3 separate regions of the Homo sapiens genome follow, and all the other regions are linked to region 3. Evidence: fine-mapped QTL for protein levels in blood plasma. A gene starts in region 3. Each other region holds a variant in brackets. All regions are shown on one strand. Distances are between the middles of the regions. Region 1 overlaps C1QTNF1 (C1q and TNF related 1). Region 2 overlaps C1QTNF1 (C1q and TNF related 1). Region 3 holds the start of C1QTNF1 (C1q and TNF related 1).

Evidence for each region. PIP is the posterior inclusion probability: the model's chance that the variant is causal. The UK Biobank Pharma Proteomics Project read protein levels with antibody pairs (Olink). The fine-mapping took linkage between variants from a reference panel, not from the people measured, so its PIPs are less certain.
Region 1: its variant is fine-mapped to the plasma level of the C1QTNF1 protein (UK Biobank, PIP above 0.99).
Region 2: its variant is fine-mapped to the plasma level of the C1QTNF1 protein (UK Biobank, PIP above 0.99).

Annotation. Positions count from the first base shown.
Region 1 is chr17:79,035,244-79,045,201 of GRCh38, forward strand. C1QTNF1 (C1q and TNF related 1) reads left to right here. Exons shown (of 4, transcript NM_030968.5): 2 at 8,712-8,880. The coding sequence starts at 8,726. Among named protein-coding and RNA genes, the nearest start is that of C1QTNF1-AS1, 13 kb to the left of the region's middle. RefSeq lists an enhancer at 8,722-9,222. The variant C/CTT (reference allele first, on the strand shown) is at 6,682.
Region 2 is chr17:79,046,139-79,056,096 of GRCh38, forward strand. It overlaps C1QTNF1 (C1q and TNF related 1), which reads left to right. Exons shown (of 4, transcript NM_030968.5): 3 at 417-556; 4 at 1,400-3,650. The coding sequence ends at 1,950. Among named protein-coding and RNA genes, the nearest start is that of C1QTNF1-AS1, 23 kb to the left of the region's middle. RefSeq lists an enhancer at 516-1,715. The variant A/G (reference allele first, on the strand shown) is at 3,288.
Region 3 is chr17:79,016,108-79,025,873 of GRCh38, forward strand. It overlaps C1QTNF1 (C1q and TNF related 1), which reads left to right and starts at 8,062. Exons shown (of 4, transcript NM_030968.5): 1 at 8,062-8,387. It overlaps C1QTNF1-AS1 (C1QTNF1 antisense RNA 1), which reads right to left. Exons shown (of 3, transcript NR_040019.1): 2 at 3,899-4,129; 3 at 3,102-3,509. RefSeq lists a silencer at 8,394-8,483.

The sequences.
Region 1 (9,958 bases), 19 kb after region 3:
CTTCTCAACAGGAGAATTCTACCAGACGTCAGAGCCGAGGGGGAGTGGACTCAGGGCTTCTCTTCTGGTTGGGAGGATTCTGGGGATGTTCCAAAGGTGGCTGGAGGGGATGGCACGAAGGGGTGGTGATGGCTAAGGGGCCGTTGAGGCTGTGTAGAAACCAGGAGTGTTTGAGTTCTGGGCTGAATCGTATTTTTTTTTTTTTTTGAGACAGTCTCACTTTGTTGCACAGGTTGGAGTGCAGTGATGCGATCTCAGCTCACTGCAACCTCTGCCTCCTGGGTTCAAGCGATTCTCCTGTCTTAGCCTCCTGAGTAGCTGGGATTACAGACACACACCACTGCACCCAGCTAATTTTTGTATTTTTAGTAGAGACAGGGTTTTACCATGTTGGCCAGGCTGGCCTCGAGCTCTTGGCCTCAAGTGATCTGCCCACCTCAGCCTCCCAAAGTGCTGGGATTATAGGCGTGAGCCACCATACCTGGCCTGAATCCAATTCTTGAACTGGACACCACTAGATGTGGGATAAAGTCCTATCTTATGCCAAGTTTCCTTGGGAGATGAATGTAAACTGGGGGCGGGGGCAATGTCTAGACCCTGGAAAAGGCAGACGAAGATGCTTGTCTTGGGTGGACTGAGGTCTGGGGGACAGCGGAGCCCCTGGAGGGCATCTGATACAGGCACAGGGCAGGAGGGAGAGTTGACCTTTAGGATCTATTCAAGCAGGCTGGGGATGGATGAGATGCGGATGCATGAGAGGAAAGGGTCTAAACGCCTCTCAGATTTCTGGCCTGCTGTTTGTTCACAGTTACTCTTCCTCCTTGATGACTTCATTTTAATCTAGAACAGAGCTGTCCAACAAAACTTTCTGCAATGATTGAAATGTTCTATTCTATACTTTCCAACATGGTAACCACTAGCTACATGTGGCTTTTTATTTTTATGTTTTGAGAGAGGGTCTTGCCCTGTTGCCCAGGCTAGGGCGCAGTGGTGCAGTCGTGGCTCACTGCAGCCTCAACCCCCTGAGATCAACCAGTCCTCTTGCCTCAGCCTCCAGAGTAGCTGGGACTACAGGTGCACACTACCATGCCTGGCTAATCTTTGCATTTTTTGTAGAGATGGGGTCTCGATATATTGCCCGGGCTGGTCTTGAACTCCTGGGCTCAGGCGATCCTCCCACCTTGGCCTCCCAAGGTGCTGAGATTACAGACATGAACCACTGTGCCCAGCCTACATGTATTAATAGTTATTGAATGCTTGAAATGCGGCTAGTGTAGCTGAAGAACTGAATTTTGAATTTTCTTTCATTTTAATTAATTTAAATTTAAATAGCCACACATAACAGCCACTGTACCGGACAGCACAGTTCTAGAATGTTACCCACTTAGCATTTTAATTCAACATGTGTTGTTCTGTCTTGAGCTATAATTGGGTACGTGTCTGTTTCCTTCACTAGCCTGTTATATTCTTGAGGTCAGGGAATAGATTTAATTCCTGGTTGAATCACTTCCTCCCAAGCTCTTGCACAATGCCATGCAAATCATGGGCATTCAGTAAACCCAGCCTGTGTTAGATGGTCAGCTGAGAGGGCAGCTTGGACATGTCTGCCAAGGCTCCTTCCAATTCAAGGAGATTATAGGCTTCTTGCCTCTCAGAACAGCTGCTCACCTGATGAGGATTAAAGAAAAAGGAAAACAGTGTTTACAGAATGCTTTTGTCAAAAGGCCCTGCGCTGGGTGGAGCATAAGGACAAAACCCAGGCACATAGTCCCAGAGCTTCAGAGGTCCGCTGTCAGCACACAAGCATGAGAGCACGGAGGTGAAACAAAAATATAACAGGACCCACTTATTTGTTTATTTATTCACCATGCCCAGCTATTTTTTTGTTTTTGTTTTTGTTTTTTTGAGATGGAGTCTCGCTCTGTCGCCAGGCTGGAGTGCAGTGGCATGATCTCGGCTTAGCACAACCTCCGACTCCCTGGTTCAAGCGATTCTCCTGCCTCAGCCTCCCAAGTAGCTGGGATTACAGGCACGTGCCACCACGCCCAGCTAATTTTTGTATTTTTAGTAGAGCCAGGGTTTCACCATGTTGGCTAGGATGGTCTCCAATCTCCCGACCTCGTGATCCACCCGCCTCGGCCTCCCAAAGTGCTGGGATTACAGGTGTGAGCCACTGTGCCCGGCCAATTTTGGTATTTTTACTAGAGACAGGGATTTGCCATGTTGGCCAGGCTGGTCTCGAACCCCTGACTTCAAGTGATCCACCCTCCTCGGCCTCCTAAAGTGCTGGGATTACAGGCGTGAGCCACTGCGCCCAGCCAAAAGGCCCAATTTGAAACAAATATAAGGAATGGTGAACTTGCATGTGACTACTCTCTCCTTAAAGGACCTACCACAGAGCTAAGAGGCCTGTGGAGGGATAAAAATTATTATTATTATTATTACCACAGGGTCTCACTCTGTCACCCAGGCTAGAGTGCAGTGGTGCGATCATGGCTTACTGCAGCCTTGACTTCCTGGACTCAGGTGATCCTCCTACCTCAGTCTCTTGAGCAGCTGCTGGGACTACAGGCGAACACCACCATGCCTGGCTAATTTTTGTGTTTTTGGTAGAGATGGGGCTTCACCATGTTGTCCAGGATGGTCTTGAATTCCTAGGCTCAAGCAATCTACCCACCTTGGCCTCCCAAAGTGCTGGGATGACAGGTGTGAGCCACCACAAGCAAACAAGGGATACAATTTTTTTCTTTTTCTTTTTTTTTTTGAGACGGAGTCTCACTCTGTTGCTCAGGCTGGAGTGCAGTGGCGCGATCTTGGCTCACCACAACCTCTGCCTCCTGAGTTCAAGCAATTCTCCTGCCTCAGCCTCCCGAGTAGCTGGGACTACAGGTGCACCCCACCACGCCCAGCTAATTTTTGTATTTTTAGTAGAGATGGGGTTTCACCATGTTGGCCAGGCTGGTCTTGAACTCCTGACCTCAGGTGATCCACCTGCCTTGGCCTCCCAAAGTGTTGGGATTACAGGCGTGAGCCACCGCGCCCGGCCGGGATACAAATTATTCACAAGGATGTGTCCTCAGGCTTCCTGTCCTCCTCTACGTCCTGCGTGTAGCCTGGTTTCTCTTTTCTGGCCTCCCTCCTCCTGTAAAGGGGGATGTGTTCTTGTTGGGGAGAAGGTCAGGTGTAGGTGGATGATGTGGGGTTGAGGAAGGGACGCTGAAGAGCGGCTAGTCCTCAGGGACATGGAGGGAAGGAAAATGGTCGCCGAATTACCATGGAAATTGGCTCATATTTGCAGGATTTGGGAAAGGCAAGTAAAGAGCTTGAGTCATGCTGGAACTGTCTTCAGTTGCCTTGCCTGCGATGAGGCCTGGAGACTGGGCCACGTGGATCTGGATTCACACAGGTTTCACGTCACTGGCCAAGATGTGCTCAGGGCACTTCCCTGGAACTGCCTAACACATTCTTCCAGATAACCTTGCTGGGACACAGCCTCCCTACTGTAGGGGGATTTTTGCTGGAAATCACTAACAGTGATCTGGAGCCAAGTTTGGTTAGATGTTGGGCAATACTGTCTTTGCCCAAAAGTGACTAAAATGATCATCATGTTATGACGCTGGCTTTGCTGTGGGATTTGGTAAAATGCTTCTTAAGATCTTTTCAGGAAGGAAAGATTTCAACCTGGGTTTGCTCTGACTCCGAACAGCAGGCTTTTGAGGAGAGCCACCACCGCCAAAGTGGCCTTGTCCCTACCAGCCTGAGCCTGGGGCTCTCTGCTGGGGTTTCCCAGCCCCACCCCACCCCAGTGACAGCATCGTTCCTAACCCAGCTGCATCCTGGACCCCGTCTCTTCTGACCAAGGTGTGGAAAATCCCTTTGCTAGACTAGAAAGAGATAGACCAACATAAAAACAAATGCTGGTGCTTAGCTAGGGGCAATTTTGCCCCTGAGGAACAGGCATATTACCATGTTTGGAGACATTTTTTGTTGTCATAACTAGAGGTAGTGGTGCTAATGGCATCTGGTGGGGACAGTCCAGGGTTACTGCTAAGCATCCTACAGCACACAGGCTAGCCCCCCACCACAGGGGATTATCTAGGCCCAAACCTCAATGGTGCCAGGGTTGGCTGGCGCGGTGGCAAACGCCCGTAATCCCAGCACTTTGGGAGGCCGAGGCAGATGGATCACCTGAGGTCAGGAGTAGTTCAAGACCAGCCTGGCCAACATGGCGAAACCCTGTCTCTACTAAAAATACAAAAATTAGCCGGGTGTGGAGGCACACGCATATAATCTCAGTTACTAGGGAGACTGAGGCAGGAGAATAACTTGAACCTGGGAGGCGGAGGTTGCAGTGAGCCAAGATCGCGCCACTTCACTCCAGCCTGGGTGACAGAGCGAGACTCTGTCTCAAAATAAAATAAAACAAAAAAACCCAGCAATCCTTCAATGGTGCCAGGGTTGAGAAACCACAGAGTAGAATAATCCAAGGTAGCTTTTTAATGCGTTTTGTAGTTACTTTCCAACCTCTCTTAAATAAATATGTGTGTGTGTGTGTATATATATATATATGTAAATATGTATATATGTATATATATGTAAACATGTGTATGTGTATATATAAAATTTGGGATTCAGGAAAAAAATATTTAAAGAAAGGAAAATCTCTTTTCCTTTTAACTGGTACAAGTTTGCCACTTAAAAGGAAAAAACAGAATAATTATTAAGGCACCAAGGAGAAACAGAGGAAATACAGAAATGGAGAAATAAACAAATTTAGAGAATTCAGTCTGACAAATATTTGCTGAGCACCAGTGATTCAGGGTGCTGCAGGATGCTTGGCTAGGGGACGTCCCAGCCCTGGAGGAGGTCACCCACGGTCTGCTGAGTAGACTCTCATAGGCTAGACAAACTCTCTGCAGTAGGAGACAATAGGAAAAATAAAATTATGGCGCCCACCTATAATCCCAGTACTTTGGGAGGCCAAGGCAGGTGAATTGCTTGAGCTCAGGAGTTTGAGACGAGCCGGGGAAACACGGTGAAACCGTGTCTTTACGAAAAAACAACAAAAAAATTTAGCTGGGCGTGGTGGCGCATGCCTGTAGTCCCAGCTGCTTGAGAGGTTGAGGTGGGCAGATGGCCTGAGCCGGGAGGGTTGAGGCTACAGGGAGGCAGAGTGAGACCCTGTATCAAAAAAGAAAACTAAGACCGAGGATGGAGAATTTTTCCCAGTTGAGGGGCCTGGGAAGGCTTCAGGAAGACTATGAGACCTTGAGTTGGGTGTTGAAGACAAGGCGGGCAGGATTTTATTGTCATCTGTTGTCAGCCTGTCTGAGTCCAAATGCAGCCCCCCTGCTCAAAAATCAGTCTTGGCCCGGCGTGGAGGATCACGCCTGTAATCCCAGCACTTTGGGAGGCTGAGGTGGGCAGATCACTTGAGCCCGGGAGTTTGAGACCAGCCTGGGCAACATGGTGAAAATTTGTCTCTACAAAAAAAAAAAAAAAAAAAAAAAATTAGCTGGGTGTGGTAGTGCATACCTGCAGTCCCTTCTACTTGTGAGGCTGAGGTGGGAGGATGGCTCAAGTCCAGGAGGCAGAGGCTGCAGTGAGCCGAGATTGCACCACTGCACTCACTCACAGAGTGAGATCCTGTCAAAAAAAAAAATCAGAATTTTAGGCTAATTAGCTTCTCCAAGTCTCTGTTTTCTCATTTACATATCTGCTACAGTCATGAATGTATATTGTCTCCCTAGAGGATTGTGGGGCCATCCGTGATGGGATAAAAATTATTAATGAGGAAATGTTCTCAAACCTAACTAGACGGATAGCTGGAGAGAGAACTTAGATGTGTATTTTATAAATTACCATGTGCACATACACCCTTTTTTTGGCAAGTGGTGGGAGGTATCAGAGATTCTGGGTGGGGGCTGTGGCCTAAGCAGCTCCTTGGTCATTGGGACGGTCTCTGGGCCCTGACGCATGGGAGGGACAGCTGGCTGGTAGGACACTTGGAGGTGGGGGCTCCAGCTAAGCCACTGCAGAGATGGGGCGTGGGCCATGCAAGGTGGTGAAGACTGGGTGTAGGTATGTGTGACAGGGGAGGAGAGAGGTTCGGGGGGGCCAGCCTTGCTCTCCTCACTGTCACCTCGGAGGCTCTATCGGGAGAGCCCTGGACTCCAGATCTTCCCCTGCAATGTTGACTTGGCGTGAGGGCTCTGCGGGGAGCCCTTCAGACTTCACTCAAGAGCCCACTAAAGTCCTGGGCCGTGGCTCACGCCTGGAATCCCAGCACCTCGGGAGGCCGAGGTGGGTGGATCACTTGAGGTCAGAAGTTCCAGACCAGCCTGGCCAACGTGGTGAAACCCCGTCTCTACTAAAAATACAAAAATTAGCTGGGCGTGGTGGCGCATGCTTGTAATCCCAGCTGCTTGGGAGGCTGAGGCAGGAGAATCACTTGAACCTAGGAGGCGGAGTGAGCCGAGATCACACTGCTGCACTCCAGCCTGGGTGACAGAGCAAGACTCCATCTCAAAAAAAAAAAAAAAAAGCCCGCTACAGACATCCCCCGCAGAGGCTCCAAAGCCCCCGAGCGACGGTGTGTGTGGAAGAAATTCCCGGCTTCCCAAGATGAGTAAGACGTCGCGGTCATCTTGGTGTGTAATATGGGCAGAGAAAGAAATCTGT[C/CTT]AGGATTTTAACTTTCCTTAGACATAAGAGGAGTTAGAGGAGAAAGAGTCTGGCCCAGGGCCTTTGGAGATGAGCCCTTGCTTTCACTGTTTGCCTCTCAAGAAAGAGCTGGAGTCCACGCCGGCCTGGCAGCCAGGAGTGAGGGACGCTTCTCACCCACCTTCTCACTGGGCGGCTGTGTGTTGAATGAGGTGTTCCCACGGGGCCTGCGACATTTCGAGTTTTACATTTTGGTGAACAAAGAGGGGTTAGAGTTGACCACAGTCGCTGTGCCCCTCGGTGGGGAGGTTTTCGGCCCACCTGAAACGGCTGGGCCTGCGACTCCTGATGCCAGATTCCTGGGCGAGGGGAGCAAGCCGCTCACAGGGTGGCAGGTGGGCGTTCGCCTAATGTGGGCCCAAGTGCCGCCCCTCGCGGGCTCCCTGGACTCCCCACCTCCGTGAGCACCCCTTTCTAGAAGGACTGTCCCAATACTGGATGGAGGGGGTCCTGCCCCAAGCTTTTGCCAAAAGCTCTGGGAGTGAGACGTGGGGTTGGCTTCCTGGAAGGATGACTGCTCTGTGGGGCTGGGCTTGGCACATCCCTAAAGTAGATGCCAAGGACACCTGCTGATGCGCCGCCTGGTGGCCAGAAAGCAGCTTGCAGCCACCTTCCTACCCACCTACCCACCGGTGAAGGACCTGGTCATTGAGCCAGCTTTGCTTTGAGTTAAGGGATGATGATCATTCAAAGCTTGCTTGGGATTTTTCTTACTGTCCTAAGAGGGGTGGTATACAATTGTCTGTGGGGCCAGCGGCTGATGGACTCTCCTTCCCGAGAGGCTGGGTGGGCAGAGACAGCACCTTGCTCAGCAACCCCTCAACACCAGCCTGACTGGCTGAGGCTCTGGGGGCAGAGTGTGTGCGCACATGTGAAGGTGTGTGTACATGTGAGCGCATGTGTGCATGAGTGGATGTGCATGCATGTGAATGTGTTGAGAGTATGCGGGCGTGCACGTGAGTGTGCATGTGATGTGGGTATATGTGTGCATGTTAATGTGTGCACGTGTGTTGAAAGTGTGCATGTGTGGATTGCATGTATGCGAATGTGCATGTGTGTGGATTGCATGTATATGAATGTGTGTGCATGTGTGGGTTGCATGTGTGTGTGGGTTGCATGTGTGTATGTGTGTGCATGTGTGCATGGATTGCATGTATGTGAATGTGTGTGCATGTTGGATTGCATGTGAGTGCATGTGATGGTATATGTGTGTGAGTGCATGTAAAAGTGTGCATGTGTGTGGATTGCATGTGTGTGTGAATCTGTGTGCATGTGATATGGGTATATGTATGCATGTGTGTGCATGTGTGTTGAGAGTGTGCATGTGATTTGGGTATGTGTGCATGTGAGTTGTGCATGTGTGTTGAGTGCATGTGAGCATGTGGATTGCATGTGTGAGTGCATGTGTGTGGACTGTGTATGTGCATGTATGTGCATGTGAGTGTGAGTGTATGTGTGTTGACTGTGTGCATGTGAGCGTGTGGATTCCATGTGTGTTAAGAGTGTGCATATGGGTGCGTGGATTGCATGAGTGTGCATGTGATGTGGGTATATGTATGCATGTGTGTAGGTTTCATTGTTGAGACTGTGCATGTGTATTGTGTGTACATGTGTGTGGATTACATGTGTGTGGATTGCATGTGTGTTGGGTGCATGTGAATGTGTGGGTTGCATGTGAGTGTATGTGACTGTGTGTGCATGTGTGGATTGCATGTGTGTTGAGTGTGTGCATGTGTGGGGGTTGCATGTATGTGAATGTGTGTGCATGTGCGTGTGTGCACGTGAGTGCGTCGTGAGTGCGTGTATGCATGCATGGGTGTGTGAGAGTGATTGTCCTCCCAGAAGCTGTGTAACTGCAGCATTTCCCAGTGGCGTGAGGCTGGGGAAGCACCTCCGATTTCCAGGCTGTTTCTCTCCCCAATTTTCAGGCTGTTTCTCTGTGCAGCTCCTTCCTAACTCGGTGCCTTCCCTGTGTGTTTCTTTCCCACCAGGGCCCGGCAGGAAGATGGGCTCCCGTGGACAGGGACTCTTGCTGGCGTACTGCCTGCTCCTTGCCTTTGCCTCTGGCCTGGTCCTGAGTCGTGTGCCCCATGTCCAGGGGGAACAGCAGGAGTGGGAGGGGACTGAGGAGCTGCCGTCGCCTCCGGACCATGCCGAGAGGTGAGGGGCCACGAGGGTGTAATAGCAGGAGCTCTGGCTCTGGCCAGGCTGAGCCTGGGCCTTGGGGCCCCTGGGGGAGCTAGTTCACTGTGAGATGTGAAGGCAAGAAAGCTGAAGCTGAGCCGTGGCCCTGCTGGAGGCTGGTCCTGCAGGACAGACGAGCGATTCCTCCTTTCAGTGGCTTGGGCACCTCACCTGAAACTGCGGACAGTGATCCAGCCTCACCACGAGCCTAAAGGAGTGGGGTCTGCAAGTGGCTTTGCAGCTGCCTCCTTAAGAGCAGACCAAGCTCCCAACCTGCCCTCCAGTTTGTCTTTCCATTCTCACTTTGTCCGCTGAGAATATCTGCTGGGGACCTAGGCACCACTTGGAGGCAGGGAGAAGTGGAGCATGGCCTTAGGAGAGATGCTGGACCAAGAGCTGGTGTCCATGGCCCACGCGTCTTATCACACTGCAGGACAGGAGAGGACAGCGGAGACTGGGTGGGCCAAGTGTCGGCTTCCCTTGAAAGGTTGTGAAGGACTCTGGATGGCCTTCGTGTCTACGACCTGCAATGACAGAGAGACTCCAGCCGACCTGGGACATTTCCTAGGGAAGCCGAGTGCTTCATCCAACTGCCATGTACCCAGAGTGAGGTCCTGGAGACCCGGCGACAGCTCAAGCCTGGCTTGGAGTCTCTTCATTATTTTGAGCGTTGGGCTGACTTGATACTTGAGGCTTCAGACTAACTTCAGTGTACGATGGGATTGGACAGGATTTGAGGTTGAGTCACATCATTCCGTTCTTTCTTCCTCTCCCTCCTCTTTCTTTGATTGAGCCCCTCCTATCAGTCAGGCCATCCCCCAGGCACGGGGGGACACATGAGTGGCACAGTCCTGGCCTCCAGGAGCTCTGAGGCCGAGAGGGAGATAGACACATGAGAGACAGGGCAGCGTGGTGGGCTTTGTAGTAGGGGTGTACCCATGACGCTGGAGGCAGGGCCAGGAGAGGGAGGAGCGGGTCCCAGGAAGACTGAAAGGAGTGAACTAGGTCTTGAAGGACACCTGCGGGCCTCCCAGGTGCAGAAGGAGGGGAAAGC
Region 2 (9,958 bases), 30 kb after region 3:
GGGAATCCTAAAGATCCAGTTGAACCTTCTTATTTGCAGACGAGTCAGCTTCATATGTTATTTTCTAGCATCACGGATATACGATAGGGAGTCCCGGCATTGTCTTGTGTCACCCAAAGACCCTCTCTTAGAAGTGTGGATTTCTCCCGAGCAGCCCCCATCTTGCGTGGCACTCAATTGATCGCTGCGTGTGTTTCCAGGACTGTCATTGCCTTTAACAGAGGGCAGGGGGCTCGTTCGGTAGTGAGGATCCCAGAGTGGGCCGTGAGCCCACCAGCGTGAACACAGAGCCTTGTGGGTCCAGGTGAGAGAGTGAGAAGGCAGGTCAGGCATGCCAGAACCACTGGCAGCAGGAGAGAGCAGCGTTTCCAGGCCTGAGAGTGGCTGACTTTCACTGTGATTCTTTATTCCCTCAGGGCTGAAGAACAACATGAAAAATACAGGCCCAGTCAGGACCAGGGGCTCCCTGCTTCCCGGTGCTTGCGCTGCTGTGACCCCGGTACCTCCATGTACCCGGCGACCGCCGTGCCCCAGATCAACATCACTATCTTGAAAGGTCAGATGGCTGCAAAGACAAGCACGGGGTGGCCGGGCTGCTCTGTGCTGATCCGGAGGAAGGGATGGAGTCGTTAGGGTGGGGCTAGGCGAGAGCAGAATGGCTCCCTCGGGACAGGGAGCAGAGGCAGGCAGGCTGTCATCTAGAGGGGAAGGCACAGGAAATTCTGATTTTGAGGCTCTGGCCCCTCTCCAAGAGGAGGGGTTGGAAAGGGGCCCACAGGACCAAGAGCAGGAGAGGGAGCCCAGAGGCTACTCGGGGTCTCGTCCCTCCAGTTGTATGTGGACGCCAGGCTTCTAGGCCCTTTGCTTTGGGGCTTGGTCCCCCAGCCTGCTTTCTGAAATGCCACCTGCTCGCTCCGGTCCTGCACACGGCAGATAACCCTGCACAGCCCCGTGAAATCGAACTGGAAACACTTGCAGCCTAGATCCCCAGCTGGCCCCGACATCTGGAGTTCATTTGCTCAGAGCGAGCCGTCGGTCTGGCCGCAGAGCCCATTGCTTTTGGACGAACCCGTATGTTCCATTTTCTTTTTTTTCTTTTCTTTTTTTTTTTTTTTACCAGGGCTTTCCAGAAGGAAAAAAAAATTATTGCTTCTGGGCGAAAATAGAACCATCCTTGAGGTTGAGTCTGTTTGCTTGGCCATTTTGGGAATCACAATACCTCTGTGCCAGGCTGGGACGCCGCCCGTGGCAGGGGGCTGGGGGCAGGAGTGAAGCTTCTGCCAGGTCAGGGCTGTGAGGACGAATCAGGACAGCGCCAGGGACCGGAGAGTGAGCAGCCAAGGCTCAGGACACTACCGGATTGCTCCATTAACAGCACGCGTTTTCCCATCCCTTTTAGGGGAGAAGGGTGACCGCGGAGATCGAGGCCTCCAAGGGAAATATGGCAAAACAGGCTCAGCAGGGGCCAGGGGCCACACTGGACCCAAAGGGCAGAAGGGCTCCATGGGGGCCCCTGGGGAGCGGTGCAAGAGCCACTACGCCGCCTTTTCGGTGGGCCGGAAGAAGCCCATGCACAGCAACCACTACTACCAGACGGTGATCTTCGACACGGAGTTCGTGAACCTCTACGACCACTTCAACATGTTCACCGGCAAGTTCTACTGCTACGTGCCCGGCCTCTACTTCTTCAGCCTCAACGTGCACACCTGGAACCAGAAGGAGACCTACCTGCACATCATGAAGAACGAGGAGGAGGTGGTGATCTTGTTCGCGCAGGTGGGCGACCGCAGCATCATGCAAAGCCAGAGCCTGATGCTGGAGCTGCGAGAGCAGGACCAGGTGTGGGTACGCCTCTACAAGGGCGAACGTGAGAACGCCATCTTCAGCGAGGAGCTGGACACCTACATCACCTTCAGTGGCTACCTGGTCAAGCACGCCACCGAGCCCTAGCTGGCCGGCCACCTCCTTTCCTCTCGCCACCTTCCACCCCTGCGCTGTGCTGACCCCACCGCCTCTTCCCCGATCCCTGGACTCCGACTCCCTGGCTTTGGCATTCAGTGAGACGCCCTGCACACACAGAAAGCCAAAGCGATCGGTGCTCCCAGATCCCGCAGCCTCTGGAGAGAGCTGACGGCAGATGAAATCACCAGGGCGGGGCACCCGCGAGAACCCTCTGGGACCTTCCGCGGCCCTCTCTGCACACATCCTCAAGTGACCCCGCACGGCGAGACGCGGGTGGCGGCAGGGCGTCCCAGGGTGCGGCACCGCGGCTCCAGTCCTTGGAAATAATTAGGCAAATTCTAAAGGTCTCAAAAGGAGCAAAGTAAACCGTGGAGGACAAAGAAAAGGGTTGTTATTTTTGTCTTTCCAGCCAGCCTGCTGGCTCCCAAGAGAGAGGCCTTTTCAGTTGAGACTCTGCTTAAGAGAAGATCCAAAGTTAAAGCTCTGGGGTCAGGGGAGGGGCCGGGGGCAGGAAACTACCTCTGGCTTAATTCTTTTAAGCCACGTAGGAACTTTCTTGAGGGATAGGTGGACCCTGACATCCCTGTGGCCTTGCCCAAGGGCTCTGCTGGTCTTTCTGAGTCACAGCTGCGAGGTGATGGGGGCTGGGGCCCCAGGCGTCAGCCTCCCAGAGGGACAGCTGAGCCCCCTGCCTTGGCTCCAGGTTGGTAGAAGCAGCCGAAGGGCTCCTGACAGTGGCCAGGGACCCCTGGGTCCCCCAGGCCTGCAGATGTTTCTATGAGGGGCAGAGCTCCTGGTACATCCATGTGTGGCTCTGCTCCACCCCTGTGCCACCCCAGAGCCCTGGGGGGTGGTCTCCATGCCTGCCACCCTGGCATCGGCTTTCTGTGCCGCCTCCCACACAAATCAGCCCCAGAAGGCCCCGGGGCCTTGGCTTCTGTTTTTTATAAAACACCTCAAGCAGCACTGCAGTCTCCCATCTCCTCGTGGGCTAAGCATCACCGCTTCCACGTGTGTTGTGTTGGTTGGCAGCAAGGCTGATCCAGACCCCTTCTGCCCCCACTGCCCTCATCCAGGCCTCTGACCAGTAGCCTGAGAGGGGCTTTTTCTAGGCTTCAGAGCAGGGGAGAGCTGGAAGGGGCTAGAAAGCTCCCGCTTGTCTGTTTCTCAGGCTCCTGTGAGCCTCAGTCCTGAGACCAGAGTCAAGAGGAAGTACACGTCCCAATCACCCGTGTCAGGATTCACTCTCAGGAGCTGGGTGGCAGGAGAGGCAATAGCCCCTGTGGCAATTGCAGGACCAGCTGGAGCAGGGTTGCGGTGTCTCC[A/G]CGGTGCTCTCGCCCTGCCCATGGCCACCCCAGACTCTGATCTCCAGGAACCCCATAGCCCCTCTCCACCTCACCCCATGTTGATGCCCAGGGTCACTCTTGCTACCCGCTGGGCCCCCAAACCCCCGCTGCCTCTCTTCCTTCCCCCCATCCCCCACCTGGTTTTGACTAATCCTGCTTCCCTCTCTGGGCCTGGCTGCCGGGATCTGGGGTCCCTAAGTCCCTCTCTTTAAAGAACTTCTGCGGGTCAGACTCTGAAGCCGAGTTGCTGTGGGCGTGCCCGGAAGCAGAGCGCCACACTCGCTGCTTAAGCTCCCCCAGCTCTTTCCAGAAAACATTAAACTCAGAATTGTGTTTTCAGCATCCTGCCTCGTCAGTTTGCTCATTAAACTGAATCCTTTTCGTCTTCTCCTCTCCACCCAAGGCCCACTCCTGCCTGGGAGGCCCTCAGCTTCATACCTGGGGACATTGGTACCCAGCAGGTGCATGCTGGACCCTGAGTTGCCTCGCTCCTCCAGGGGGTGCAGCCTCCCATGGGTGGGGCAGCGACAGCGTGTCTCAGCTGCAGCTGAACGTGTGCCTGAGTCGGGCGCCTGGGGCCTGGGTGGGTCTGGGGACTTGTGAGAGGTGGGTGGGAGGCAGGGGCTTGATCTCCTGAGCAGGACCGCACTGTCCCCCGGGAGGGAGAGAAACTGTGGAGGTAGCAGCTTGGCCATGGCTCTGCAGCCTGGACACTATTCCTTTCCTAGGGCTGCCGTGGAAACTGGGGTTGGGGCGTGGGTGGCATAAGCCTCTAGCGGAGGGTCCTTCCTGCCCCTTCCAGCTATTGGTAGCCCCAGGCACTCCTTGGCTTGCGGCTGCATCTCCTCAGGTTCTGCTTCCGTCTTCATGTGGCCTTCCCCTCCGTGTGTCTCAAATCTTCCTCTCCCTTCCCTTACTATAACACCTGTTGCTGGATTTAGAGAATCAGGTAAATATTTAGGGCCCACTGTAAATCCAGGATGGTCTTCTCTCTAGATCCTAACTTAATTACGTCTGCAAAGACTATTTCCAAATAAGGTGACATTCACAGATAGCAGAGGTGAGGACTTGGACATATCTTTTTTTGGGGGATACAGTTCAACCTCTACCATGGCTTGCAGCTTGAATACACCCATCAGCAGCCCCCTCTGTTCTCCAGTGGTGCAGAGCAGATGTTCCTTCTTCTCTCCATCGCTTGCCAACTGGGTTAACAGCCAGGCACTGCATCCAGCTGCCAGCGGGGAGCACAGAAGCTACCTTGCTCTCTCTGGTGCCAGCAGGCTGCAAACAGCTGATCTCCTTCCTCTGCCCGCTCCTGGGGTGAGGCCATGTGTTCATGCTTGGCCTTGTGCTAGAGCCAGACTGGATCAAGGGGACCCTGCAATCCTGCTCTGTACGGGAGAAGGAGCAGGCTCCTACCTCCGCGGAGTTCAGGCCACTCAGCAGAGGATGTGCTTCCCAGGCAGTGGGGAGCAAGGGCTAAGTGCCCTTCCCAGAGGTGCCTGGAGGGAACCAGCCAGCTTCATACAGGTGCCCAATGACAACCCTCTCTGGAGACGGAGTCACGTGGACCATATAATACCTGTTTCTCTGCTGGCCAAATTCCCATGGGAAAAGAGGCAGGGTCTGCTCCAGTCCGCTCCATGCTCCTTTTAACATCCCTCTATCTTTGGGGTTTCCCCACCCCCAATATTTTCAGGCTGGCATTTATGCTCCACCCATTCTTCCTCCAAATATTTCCCTTGCTCCTGCTTTGTGGCAGATCGTGTGCTAGGCACTGGAGGCATAAGGACAGATAAGATATGGTCCTTGCCTTCCTGAGGACTTTCCCAGGGTTTCGACTGCCGTCTGACAGAGGTCAGCCTTCTCAGAAGAGCTGCACGCTTGGTACCAAGTGATCTGCTCCACCTGATGCCTCCCCAAGCAGTTGATCTTGACGGGATCCTCTCCCGGTTTCCTGTCCCAAGCTGGTGAGAAATTGGCTAGCCATCTCACTAAAGGGTCTAGAAAACTCAGTTGCAATACAAATATCAGTGTTTTAGCAAAAGGACTTAGTAATGGCTGATGACTCAGCCCAACGAAATAACTGCCTATGTTAGGACTTTCAGGAGCTTTTGTAGCCAGGGATGGGGATGAGGAGGTCATGGCCCACACTAGTCCTCAATGATAATTTTCTGTAAGGTCCACTATGGGAACGCAGTGGCGTGATGGCAAGCTGATTTTATTGGGCCATAATGACTAGCATAAGATGAGACATTGTTGCCCAGATTATTAAAAAAAAATAGAATGTAACAGAAAATAATAAATAATGCAAGATATCGATGTCCCAACATGCAAAAGAATGGAGTTGGGCCCCTACCTCACACCATATACGAAAATTAGGCCTTGGATCAAAGGCCTAAATATTAGAGCCAAAACTACAAAATTCTTAGAAGAAAGCCCAGGCATACATCTTCATGACCTTGGATTAGGTGATGATTTCTTAGGTATGATATCAAAGGTACAAGCAACAAAAGAAAAAAATAGATCAACTGCACATCATCAAACTTGTAAATTTCTGTGTTTCAAAGGACACCATCAAGTAAGTGAAAAGACAACTCACAGAATGGGAGAAAATATTTGCCATCATATATCTGATAAGGGACTTATATCTAGAATATATAAAGAACTCTTGCAACTCAATAATAAAAAGACAAATAATCTAATTAAAAATGGGCAAAGCAGCCCACACTTCTCCAGAGGAGATATACAAGTAACCAATACACACATGAACAGGTGTAATCATCAGAGAAATGCAAGTCAAAACCACAGTGAGACACAACTCTACAACCACCAATACACACATGAACAGGTGTATCATCAGGGAAACGCAAATCAAAACCACAGTGAGACAACTCTACAACCAATGGGAAGGCTGTTGTCAAGAAGACAGATGATAACATGTGTTGCTGAGGATATGGAGCTGCTGGAACTGCTGTCAGGAATACAAAATGGTGAGTCCCCTTTAGAAGACAGCCTGGCAGTTCCTCAAAATGTTAAGCATAGAGCTACAGCTGACCCAGCCATAACACTTCTAGGTATATACCCAAAAGACATGAAAATATATGTCTATGAAAAGCTTATAGATAGATGTTCATAGCAGCATTATTAGTAATAACAAAGAAGCAGGTACAACCCAAGTGCCCACTCAGCTGATGAACAGGTAAACAAATGCAGTGTGTCTATACAAAGCAGGCAGATCACAAGGTCAGGAGTTCGAGACCAGCCTGGCCAACATGGTGAAGCCCTGTTTCTACTAAAAAAATACAAAAATTAGCCAGGCGTAGTGGTGTGTGCCTGTAATCCCAGCTACTTGGGAGTCTGAGGCAGGAGAATTGCTTGAACCTGGGAGGCAGAGGTTGCAGTGAGCGGAGATCGTGCCACTGCATTCCAGAGCCTGGGTGACAGAGCAAGACTCACTCCATCTCAAAAAAAAAAAAAAAAAAAAAAAAAGGAATGAAGTGCTATTACCTACTACAACATTGGTAAACCTCAGAAACATTATCAAAAGGGAAAGAAGCCAGACAGAAAAGGCCATACGTTGCATGATTCCATTTATATGAAATGACCAGAATAAGCAAATCTAAACTAAAAATTACTGAATTCTACACTTTAAATGGATGATTCTATGGTATGTAAATAATATCTCAATAAACAGCAGTTATCAAAACAAGTAACACAAAACCAAAAAATTAGGCTGCCGCAGCCTTCTCTATTCAAGGCTGGAAAGTCCTGGAGCTCCAGAGTCATGACCTTCAGAGTTGGTCCCATTGTTCTGGGCTTGGCTTACGATGGCACAGGGGCCAAGGGCCAGTGAGATGGGATGGGAGTGTCAGGGTTAGTTTTTCCAAGGACATTGTTGAACAAGCATTTTTGAATCAACTGGTGGGTGAGATCACAGAGTCAGCAGGAGGCTGATGCAGGTGCCAGGGGAAGCATTCCACAAGGAATGACTAATTGAGGACCATGTCTTCCTCTCTAAAGTCCTTCCACAGCTGGGGCAGGGATGGGAAACTATGGTGACCTCAAGTGCTCCCATATCCTGCCCTTCCTAGGGCAGAATGGAGTAAGCCCATTTCTCATTATGCAGATGGCCAGGCAAGGACAAGGAATTTCTACTTCAGACACTTTTATAGATAGGATTAGAAGTCCATATGCTCTGGAAAATTTGGAAACCTCCTTGCCTAAAGACAGGAAATGTTCCAACCGCTCAATTGACATAGCCACTAAGTTAGTTCTCCAAGCAACTTGAGATCCTGCTTACTGAGATATTCCACAAGAATGTATTAAATGCCTACCACATGAGGGAAAAAACTCTTACCATTTAGAGTTATCACAATCAGAATATAAAATAACTATGCTTGCTACATTCAGGGAGGTAAAAAAAAAGGATTGATATTTGTGGCAGAAAACTTTAATGATGGTGATGATGGTGGTGATAATAAAGAAGCAAATGGAAGCTCTAGAAGTGAAAAACAAAACAAATGAATTTAAGAGCCTGGGCAACATGGCAAAATCCCATCTTTACAAAAAAATACAAAAGCTAGCCGGGCATCGTGGCACATGCCTGTAGTCCCAGCTACTTGGGTGGCTGAGGCAGGAGGACCACTTGAAACTGGGAGGTGGAAGCTGCAGTGAGCCATGCTTGCACCACTGCATTCCAGCCTGGGGTACAGAGTGGGACCCTGTCTCAGAAAAAAAAAAAAAGAAAAAGAAAAAAAAAAATAAACTAAGAATTTGGTGGATAAATATACCATCATACTGTACACAGCTGAAAAGAAAAATCAGTGAATTAGAAGAGAAATCAGAAGAAAATATTTAGAAAGAAGTATGGAAAGACAAAAGGATGAAAACACAGAACAAAAGTACAGAAGTGACAATAAGAAGGCCCAATACACGTGCAACTGGAGTCCCAGGAGGCAACATGAGAGAGAAAAGGCAACAGAAATATTGGAAGATAAAATAGCTGAGAAAAATCACCCAATTGATCAGTCTCTAAGGTACAGATTCAAGAAACTCAGTGAATCCCAAGCAAGACAAATAAAACCAAGGTCACAGCCAGCATGGCATATCATGGTACAACTACTAAAAACCAAAGACCAAGAGAAAGTCTTAAAAGCAGAGGGGAAAATATTTTCTTTCACAGGAGCAATAATAAGTATCACAACTGACCTCTGCTGTGGTTTGGATTTGTGTCCTCACCCAAGCATGTCAAATTGTAATTCCCAATGTTGGAGATGGGGCCTGGTGGGAGGTGATTGGGTCATGGGGGTGGTTCCCCCTTGAGTCCCCCTGTTCTTGTGATAGAGTTCACATGAGATCTGGTTGTGTCAAAATGTCTTCCCCGTCTCTCTCTTCCTCCTGCTCTGGCCATGCAAGACCAGCCTGCTTCCCCTTTGCCTTCTGCCATGATTGAAAGTTTCCTGAGGCCTCTCCAGAAGCCATCATGCTTCCTCTACAGCCTGAAGAACTGTGAGCCAATTAAACCTCTTTTCTTTGTAAATTGCCCAGTCTCAGGCAGTTCTTTATAGCAACAAGAGAATGAACAAATACAAGCAAAAGAGCAGAAGCCACAAGATAGCGGAATGGAATGTTTAAAGGGCTAGAAATAACTGTCCATCTCAGTTCTATTTCCAATTAAAATATTTTTAAAAAGATATTTTCAAACAAACAAAAATTGGGAGACTCTGTCACTGGAAAACCTGCACTGAGAGAAAATGAATGCAGAGGAAAGGTGAGAGATGCAGGGAGGAATCCAGGCCTAGAATAATGGTGAATTTGGTGGCGATTCTCAACGGATGTCGCCAGTAAGAAAATAATAATCTTGGAAACCAGTCGGAAAATTCTCAGAATGTTAAACATAGAGTTTCCACATGACTCAGTACTTCCACTAAGTGTATACCCAAGAGAAATAAGGACAAGCTCCCACACAAAAGCTTGTACTCCAATGTTCCTAGTAGTATTCATAATAGCCAAAAAATGGAAGCAACCCAAATGTCCATCAGTGGGTAACGGAATAAATAAAATGTGGTGTGTCCATATGATGGGCTATTATTTGGCTATAAAAGGAATGAATTAGTGATGCATGCTACAGCATGGAATGAACCTCAAAACATTACACTGTGTGCGAGAAACCAGACATGAAGACCACATATTGTGGGATTCCATTTATATGAAATCTCCAGGGGAGGCACATCCATGGAGACAGAAAGCAGACGAGAAGTTTCCAAGGCTGCTTGTGTGTGGTGGGGGGATTAGAATACGACTGCTAGTTGGTTTCTTTTTGGGGAGACAAACTGTTTGTTTGTTTGTTTTTTTGAGATGGAGTCTTGCACTGTTGCCCAGGCTGGAGGGCAGTGGCATGATCTTGGCTCACTGCAACCTCTGCCTCCCAGGTTCAAGTGATTCTCCTGCCTCAGCCTCCCAAGTAGCTGGGATTACAGGTGCATGCCACCACGCCTGGCTAATTTTTTTGTATTTTTAGTAGAGACAGGGTTTCACTATGTTGGTCAGCCTGGTCTCAAACTCCTGACCTTGTGATCCACCAGCCCCGGCCTCCCAAAGTGCTGGGATTACAGGCGTGAGCCACCATGGCCGGCTGAGACAAACTG
Region 3 (9,766 bases):
TACTAAGGCTTTGAATGGAATGGCGTGCTTTCAAATATAAAAAAAACTGCCTTAAGGAATCAAAGTTGACTTATAGAGCTAATAAAAGGCCCTTGGAAAAACTGGCTTTATACCTTGTCTATGCAGTCCCTGTACAGGGTTCCTGCCATGTGGTAAGTAAAGAATGTCACTTTGTGACAGGTTCAGGAGCCCTAAGTTATATTGGGACTTTGAGACGAGAGAAATTTACCTAACTCATACAGGTATTTGAAGGCATAAACCCATGGCTGGGCAAGGCTTTAAAAAGTCAAATATAAGATTCCTTATGGAACAAGATTCCATCAAAGCCATTTTTTTGTAAAAAGAGCCTATATGGTGAATAATTATTCTTACTGCACTTCATGCAAATGATCATGCCAAGTATAATAAGACTAAGGTTTATTTTTCAAACAAATAAGTCCTACCATTATTTGTTTTTAATAAAAATGGGGACTGGAGAGAGAAAAATTAGGTTTCAAAAACTATGGTACACCTGTTATTAGATTCTAGTCTCATTCATTGTTTTTTTTTTTTTTTTCTGCAGTCTAGACTGACCCTGCTTATTTCTGTGAACCAACCAGTGATCTCTGGCCATGGCTCAGAACAAATAATAGGGATGGGTAACATAAGAAATATCTGGATCAGTATTCTAATTCAGGGCACATATTGGAATCTGTTAGCAACCCCATATCAGCTTAGTTCCAACAGTTGCCCAGTTGATGGAATGCCTTATTTAATTTATTTGGGATAAAGTATTAATCCATTCTCACACTGCTATAGAGAAATACCCAAGACTGGGTAACTTATAAAGCAACAAGATTTAATGGCTCACGGTTCTGCAGGCTGTACAGGAAGCATGGCAGCATCTGCTTCTGGGGAGGCCTCAGGGAGCTTTTAGTCATGGCCTAAGGCAAAGGGGGAGAGGCCTCTTACATGACAGGAGCAGGAGAAAGAGAGAGAGCGAGGAGGTACCATACACTTTTAAACAACCAGATCTCACGAGAACTCACCCACTATCATGACCAAGGGGGATGGGGCCAAACCATTCATGAGAAACTGCCCCAGTGATCCAGTCACCTCCCATCAGGCCCTACCTCCAACTTTGGGGACTATAATCGGACATGAGATTTGGTGGGGACACAGATGCAAACCATATCAGATAATTTTACTTATTTTGCTTTACTATTGTGGAATATATTCCTGTTGTACTCGTTGTGTAGGAATGCAGAATAAGCTTACTCGCCGTTTTCTTAAATTGAACATTTGCCAGTCTTCCAGATATCACCTTTTGTTGGAACTCAGAGTTATGAATGGCCGTCAGTATGCTGATGCTTTCTGACTGAGTTCCTCTCTACCCTGAATACAAAAGACCTTAATAGTTAGATGAGAATATCATTACTCCTATTTAGCCTGAAGAAGCTACAGAAGGGGAATCTTCCTACCTCTACAACCCTTAGGATTAGTGGTCCTCTTGTAAAAAGGAGGGGGGAAATATGTCAGAGGCATTGGAAGCAGAGCAACTTTAACTTGAATAGGGGCTGGGTAAAATGATGCTGAGACCTGCTGGGCCACATTCCTGGGAGGTTAAGGCATTTTAACCTCCCGGGATCTGAGATGAGATAGGAGGTCACAAGATACAGGCCACAATGACCCTGCTCATATAACAGGATGCAGTATAAAGGCTGGCCAAAACCTGCCAAAACCAAGATGGCAACAAAAGTGACCTCTAGTTGTCCCAACTGCTCATTATATGCTAATTATAATACATTAGCATGCTAAAAAAACACTCCCACCAGCACCGTGGCAGTTTACAAAGGCCATGGGAACGTCTGGAAGTTACCCTGTATGGCCTATGACGGGGAGAAACCCTCAATTACAAGAAATTCTTGCCCCTTTCCCAGAAAGCTCATGAATAATCCACCCCTTGTTTAGCATATGATCAAGACATAACCATAAAAATAGCCAACCAGCAGCCTTTGGGGGTGCTCTGCCTATGGAATAGCCATTTTTCTTTTCTTTTCTTTCTTTTTTTTTTTTTTTTTTTTGGCACAGTGTTGCTCTATTGCCCAGGTTGGAGTGCAATGGCGCAATCTTGGCTCTCTGCAACCTCCATCTCCCACGTTCAAGTGATTCTCATGCCACAGCCTTCTGAGTAGCTGGGATTACAGGCATGCTACTTGAACAGGGGCTGGGTAAAATAAGGCTGAGACCTGCTGGGCTGTATTCCTGGGAGGTTAGGCAGGAATAGGGGTAAATAGGGGTAATTATATTTTTAGTAGAGATGGGGGTTCACCATGTTGGCCAGGGTGGTCTTGAACTGATCTCAGGTGGTCTGCCTGTCTCGGCCTTCTGAAGTGTTGGCATTACAGGCATGAGCCACTGCGTCCGGCCTCCTTTACTCTCTTGATAAACTTGCTTGTATTTTACCCTGTGGACTTATCCCAAATTCTTTCTTGCTCAAGATCAAAGAACCCTCTCTTGGGGTCTGGTTTGGGACCCTTTCCAGTAACAGCTCCACAGACATCATCAGATGGCTTAATTTTGCCAATCTGATGGTAATCAGTGTCTTCTCCTTGCCTGATTACTGTGAGGTTGTATATCTTTTCTTACACTTTTTGGCTGTTTACGTTTCTTTTTCTGTGGATTCCCCATCATCTTGTGTGTTTTTAGGAATTGATCCATCCCATCCCCATTGATATACGTGCAATGCCAATTTTGTCATAGATCAAGTTTTCATACACACATGGGTCTTTGTCGGGTGGGCCTTCTATCATGTTGAACTAATATACTTGATCACATCTGTTCCAATACCAGTATCTTCATTATTATGTCTTTATAATAAGCCTTCCTATGATGTAGGACAAGTCCCCTCCTACCTCACCCACCTTCAACCTTCTGGGATTTTGAATGGAATTGCTTGGAATCTATAGCTTAATTGAGCGAGAACTGAGTTTTTTTTTTTTTTTAATGATATTGAGTCTTCTATCTAAGACCACGCTTTGCTTTTCCATTTCTTTGGATTTTCTTTAGTGCTTTTCAGTAAGGGTTTGTAATTTTCACTTCACAATATAGCTTGGAGATTGTTCCAGATCACATATAGAGAGCTGTTTATTCTCTAAAGAGCTACACGGTGTTCCACTGTGTGGAATTTATTTTACCAGGCCCCTAATGATGTCCTTTGAGGGTATCTGTGCTTTTTTTATACTACGGCAATGCTTCAGAGGATATCCTTGAACTTACTTATTTGAGCACCCTTCTAAGTTTATCTGTAGGAGAAACTCCTAGAAGAAAGATTAGGGGGTCAAAGGGTATTTGCATTCTGTGAGCGAACACACCCTCCCTTCCAGAGAGGCTGTACCATAAAATCACTTTCCTTAAGGTCAACAAATACAATCAGGCTTTCATTGGATTTTCATTCTCCTTGTCTTCTTTGCATCCTCAGAGACTTCACCATAGACTCCTTTTGGAAATTCTCTTTAGTTTCTGTGGCTCTGCATAAAGGACAAGACATTCTTTATTGAATCATTCATTCATATGTTGACATGCATTTACTCACTCATTTCATAGTTAAGTGCTTGGAACTGGGGAGTCCACCAGGGGGCCCTCCCATCTTATTTATCAAGTAAAATATTGCCTAGTCGATCAGTATATGCCTGTCTCCATGTAACTGAAAACATTCATTGCCAAAACAGGAGAGTAAATATTCAGAGGTGAGGAAACTGAGGCATAGGGAAATTAAATGGCTTGATAGAGTTGCAAGGCACACGTGTACATGGCCTCAGGGGAGACTTCTGTGGAAAGGCATGGCTTCCTGGAAGAGGGAACGCCCTTACCCTCCTGGTTTTCTGCAGGTGTGAGGACCATAAAGAAACCTATTCACCTGGTGTGTCCTTGCAGCTGCCAGTCCTGATCTCCACCTGTCCCAAGCTGCTCAGAACGTGGCAGCGCCATCCAGGAGCCACGAGCATGGGCCAGTGGCCAGGGAGGCTGGATCTGTCTGCCAAGTTTCCACTTTTCCATCTTAGCAGCTTCTCCGAAGCTCTGTGGAGACTCTCCCCACTCCCACCCCTTGGCAGTGGGACGTCACCATCGGAGCCGGCCGGTCGCTACCCTTGGGAACAGAATTCAAAGTTTGCAATACCAATCTCTGCCCTTGTGGGATGACTGGGCAGCCCGACCCAAAATAGCTGGGAAAGGCGGGATGTTAGGGCCGCGGTGGGAAAACTCACAGTGCTGCTAATGACATGCTGTGCTTATCTGGAACCGAGTGTCTTGCAGACTTTAACTGAGATCACATTGCTTTTTCCAGCAATAAGTAAACAGACCCAGCGAGTGGTGGTGACAGGCCCAGGGAGAGAGAAAGAATTACCAAATCAGGGAGGGCACAGAACGTGCTGCCTTCCCTGCCAGGGGTTCCAGGAAATATTTCTTCCCATTCTAGGATCTACCCTTGACTAAGAATATGGGATGATTTGGGAATATTCAGGAAGCCTTTAGGGGTTTTGACCCAGACACCTTGTGTAGATGTGAGCTCCTAGGGAGTTTTAGGATGGGTTTGTGGGGGCTAAGAGAGAGACCTTGGGGAGGGGACTCAGTCTTTCTGGAAGTTGGCTTTGACTTCTGACCCATAATCTCAGGGCTGATGAAATCCCCCAGGCACTGTGGCTGATTTTTATTTTTGATTTCTGTTGTTGTTGCCCAACAGGAAAGGATTTTGCCAAAGGGAAAACACTCTGCCTCTTGTTGCTTGGGGGCACCTAAGGCTGAGAAGGAAGAAAATCAGCCACTCTGCAAGGACATCCCTTGCTTGCCAAAGTTTCCATCTTTCCTACTTAAAATTACAAAGCAGAAGTGAAGTTGATGACAAAGAGCATTAGGAACCTGGCATGCTCTCTATTTTGGATTTTTTTTTTCACTTTATTGAGGACAAGCTTGTATTCTCTGGGAGCTGGCCTTGTGAGTCTTTGCCCATTGCCTGCTGCCTTGAGTTGTGAGCCATGATGGTGGCACCTAAGACATGTGCTCAGACCTCAACTCCTATTCTTTGGAAGTTCCCATGCCTCCGAGCCTTGGGTCTCACACAAGATCTTGGGAAACCCCAGGCTCTCTTTGTTACCGTTTGATACCACTCCTCCCTATCCCCAGTTTCTGCCTCAAGGAAAATGAGTAATCCCTTTTCTAATCTCCTCCTTCCCTCCTCTTCCCAAGAGGATGGAAGGAAGATTATACTTGTAATAATGGTAGTTGCAATGAACAATGTGTCTGTTCCACCAACCTTTTTATTAATCATGTGAGAAGCTACAGGTTCACAATCACTTCTCCAAAATCCCTGAAATGCAAAAAATCTGAAACCTTAGTTTTTCCCTAAAGTTGGCACACACAAATTTGACAGAACAATGTGGCTTGAACTATCCTGAGACTATGGATGCCTTCATCCCACTGCCGAATATTCAAGTGTTTAACGAAGGGGCGCTGCCCGAAGCCCACTGGGTAAGATGCTTTGTGGGATATTTGCATCTGACTCTGAACATATCTGACCTCCTTGGTTCCAGATAAGAGACCCTGGACCTATCTCTGCTTTGTAGATAAGGAAGCTAAGGCCCACTGAAGTTTGGTAGCATCCCCAGGCTGCCTCAAGGTAGGACAGAGCCGGGACAAGACCTCCTAGTAGGATGAGCCAGGTGCACCTGGAAGAGATGACCAGCCTTCAGCTGTCTTTCTAGAACTTTGCACTATATTGGGCCTCTGAGTTCTGTCTTGGAATTGTGTTAAAGATAACTGTTTTCCAGTTCTTCAACACCAAAGCCATCTTGGATGGGGTAAAGAGAAAGAATAAATATTCCATCATCCACAACTTTTTTTTTTTTTTTTGAGATGGGGGTCTTGCTCTGTTGCCCAGGCTGGAATGCAATGCCATGATTAGGGCTCACTGCAGCCTTGACCTCCTGGGCTCAAGGGATCCTCTCACCTCAGCCTCCTGAGTAGCTGGGATTACAGGTGTGTGCTGCCAAGCCCAGCTAATTGTTTTATATTTTGTAGAGACAAGGTCTCACTATGTTGCCCAGGCTGGTTTTAAACTCCTGGGCTCAAGTGATCCTCCCGCCTCAGCCTCCCAAAGTGCTGGGATTAAAGGTGTGAGCCACCACACCCAGCCCATCATCTGCATCTCTTTCTCTTTCAAGCTGTGTGTCCCGCTTTGTGAATTCTGGTATCTGCCCACGACTTTCCTGAGTCTGAGGCTCCCAGGCAGGGCAACAAGAAGCCTTCTCATTGCACTGAGGGATTTCCTAGCTCGTAAGAGTTCTAGAAAGTCCCAGATTCTCTGAAGTATGGACGAAGGTCTCATAAGGGCTGCAAAAAATGCTGTTGTTTTCTCTGGTATCCCTGCACCAAGGGCTATTTGAGGACAGAGTAACTAAGGAAAGGTCAGTCCGTGTGCTAAGCCTTGCTCCTGGTGACTGGGAAACTTCCTCATGTCACTTACAGGAATGGAGACAAGCTTATCTCTGGCTTTTCCTGTATCAATAAGCAACCAGGGATGTAGGTTTTGCCAAGCCTCAGACACGTATGCCAAGAACACAAGCAACCCCTGATCTTCTAAGCCTAGCGGAGGCTGCATCTCTAGTTGGTTAAGTAGTGTTGACTTCATATCCCCATCGTGTCCTCTGAGTTCCCCCTGGGTGCTGGAGGCCTGGCAGCCTTTCTCCCTGTACTCACAGGAGGGGTTGACGCATGCAGTCAGGGCCTCTGTGGAGTGGCTTTTGGGCGCCTCGCCTGCCCGGAAGCCTCCCCTTCTGTTCTCATCTCCATTTGTCCTCAGCTCTACCTGAGTGCTGGCCTCGCCCAGCCTGGGGCAAGGCAGTGGGCATTGTGCTTGCACCCTCTTCTTCCTCTCCTTTTTGATTCTTTTCATCTGTCCAGTTGTTGGTGCGGCGGATGGGAGGACACTCCAGGCAGGGAAAGGTGAGGCCTCTTAGTTTTGCTCTGAATGTCCCAACCAGCATCCCCATTTTCGCATCTCCTGTTTGTCCAGAGACAGACCCTCACAGGAGGGATAACAAAACAAAAAAATCCAGCTGCAACATCGAGGTGAGGGGCAGCTCGGAGAGAACAGGGCAGAGGGGGGAAAAAAGAAGCAAAAAAAGGGGGAATGCTGTTATCATCAGAGCTGGCTTCTGCTTCTCTGGCCAAATCCTTCCCCTGCTAGTGATATGGTAAGTTTCCAGAGCAAGCTGGGCTGACGCAGAGTCTAGGGATGGAGACTGGGTCCCAACCAGGGCCGGCTCTGGAGCAGCCTGGATCAGGGATCAGGATGGGAGGGCAGCCTACGGGCCTTGTTCAGAAAAAATATTTGTGTATGACTGAGAAAATGTCAGGTTTTCATATCAAGGAATGAGAGGCCTGATAGAGACTGAGGAGTGCTTCCAGCCATCCTGGGCTCACCACTGTACTCGTGCTGTTCTCTAGAAAATGGAAATCTTCCCGGCAGGGGCTCCTTCCTAACCTTTAGATCACAGAGCTCTCAAGACTCTGAACAAAACAGTGGACCATCACCTTCCAAAGGTGATGCGCGCGCGCGCACACACACACACACACACACACACACACACACAGTTTGGCATTTTGTTATAGGGGGTTCACAGATTCCCCCAAACCTGTCTGAGTCCCCGATAATGCACAGGGCGTCTCAGGTCTGCCACTGTTTGGAGACCTGACCCCTCAGGGTTGGCCACAGCGGATCCCGGAGGCCTTGGGGCTCATCCCTCTGCTACCAAGTGACTAGGAGCGCTCAGCCTTGCTGGGCACCCCCATCCTGCGGGGGGCATTCTCGTCCGGGGCTCGCAGCCCCTCCGCCTCTGGACGGACCTCCAGACTCACGGAATCTGCCCCACCCCCACTCTCAGCCTGGCGGGCTCCCCAGGGGGCCGGGAGGAGGCGGCCGCTGGATTTCCCTGAGGCGCGGCGCGGGGCACACACGGTTAATCCTCCGCGGCTGCTGTTTGGACGAAAAGCGCTGGGGGTGTTGGAGGCTCCTCGCTGCTCACATCTGGCTGGGCTTCGCTCCTTGCGCGTCTGTCCCACTTTCTCCCTCTCTTCCTTTACTTTCGAGAAACCGCGCTTCCGCTTCTGGTCGCAGAGACCTCGGAGACCGCGCCGGGGAGACGGAGGTGCTGTGGGTGGGGGGGACCTGTGGCTGCTCGTACCGCCCCCCACCCTCCTCTTCTGCACTGCCGTCCTCCGGAAGACCTTTTCCCCTGCTCTGTTTCCTTCACCGAGTCTGTGCATCGCCCCGGACCTGGCCGGGAGGAGGCTTGGCCGGCGGGAGATGCTCTAGGGGCGGCGCGGGAGGAGCGGCCGGCGGGACGGAGGTAGGTGGCCGGGCCGGGGGACCCAGCGCTGCCCCGCCCCATCCTCGTGGCTTCAGCCTGGTGGCCAGGGCGGGGATGGCAGACACCTGGGCCGGGACGGACGGAGAGCGCCGTGGGAGGGGCCGGTTGGCGGTGGCGGCGCAGGGGCGGAAAGACCCGGGTTTTCGGGGGCAGCCCTGGCGTCTGGCTCTGGCTCAGCCCCCGCCATAGGCGCCTTTGCGCGGGGGTCATAATGGTCCCGGGTCTCCCTGACTGTGGAGGAGCGGGGCTTTTCTGCACGTGGATACTAACGGGAGGAATTGCACCTTCCCCCTAGTTTTTTGTGGGGTGTTTATCTTGTTTCACTGTTCTCTGGTGCCTTTCTGAGGGTGTGGAAGGAAGAGGAATGGTACTAATGCCCGCGGCTGCACCTGGCGGGGATGCCCTCACCCCACTCCTTATCACTGGGACCACCTGACCGCCGGGTCTGTCCAGTCCTGTCTGTGGCCAACCTGGACCTTCACGGAATAGGAAGCGCTGACTTTGGCCCCCCGCATCTGACAGCCTTGGTGTCCTGGAGGGGGTCCAGCTTGGGCAGGAAAAAACGGTGTTGCTTCCCCGGGGCCCTCCTGGGAAGCGAAGCTGCCTGTGCCGCTGGGAGTGGCCCCCCCGGCCTGGGGCTGGAGCCTCTGAGCCGCCCTGGGGCTTCTGGACCTCGCAGGTGGACCCACCGCCCACCACCCAGCCCTCCATGGCTTCTCCACCGGTGCAGGTGTGGTCCCCACTGTTAGCCCGGGCCTCGCGGGGCCAATACCCGGGCCACACTCTTCCAGCCCCAGAAAGCCAGATTATCTTCTCTGGACCCTCCGCGTGCTTCAGGCACCCTTGGGCCGACTCATCCCTGCTTGGGAGGGAGGGAGGAAGCCGCCCCCCTCTGTGAGGTGTTCCTGACTCTTCTACCCCACCTAGTTTCTAGGAAAGGAGGCAACATGACGTGCTGGGAGCTTTCTGGTCCTGAGCTTTGAACATGAGAAATGCCGTGAGAAACTGTTTTCTCCACCGCTGGCCACTTCACAGCCCCAGGGGAGCATGTGATGTCCTTACAGGCTGCCCGGCCTCTGCTTTTTATAGTGCAGGAAAGTACACACTCCCTGGCAGGCCGTGCAGCCATGAACAGCCACAGATAGACGCACTTGGCTGTGGTGTGTGCTGCAGGGAGCGGGAGGACATGGGAGGACGTGCTCCAGGAGGCCTCTCCAGCACCTGCCAACCGGGGAGGAGGGAACCAAGACAGGGAGATGGGAGCCGAGGTCTGAGGACAAGCAGAAGCTTCCCCACCCTCCCTCTTAGAGCTGCAGAGCTGGAGAGGCCCCTAGAGTCCACCCAACAACAACAGTGGC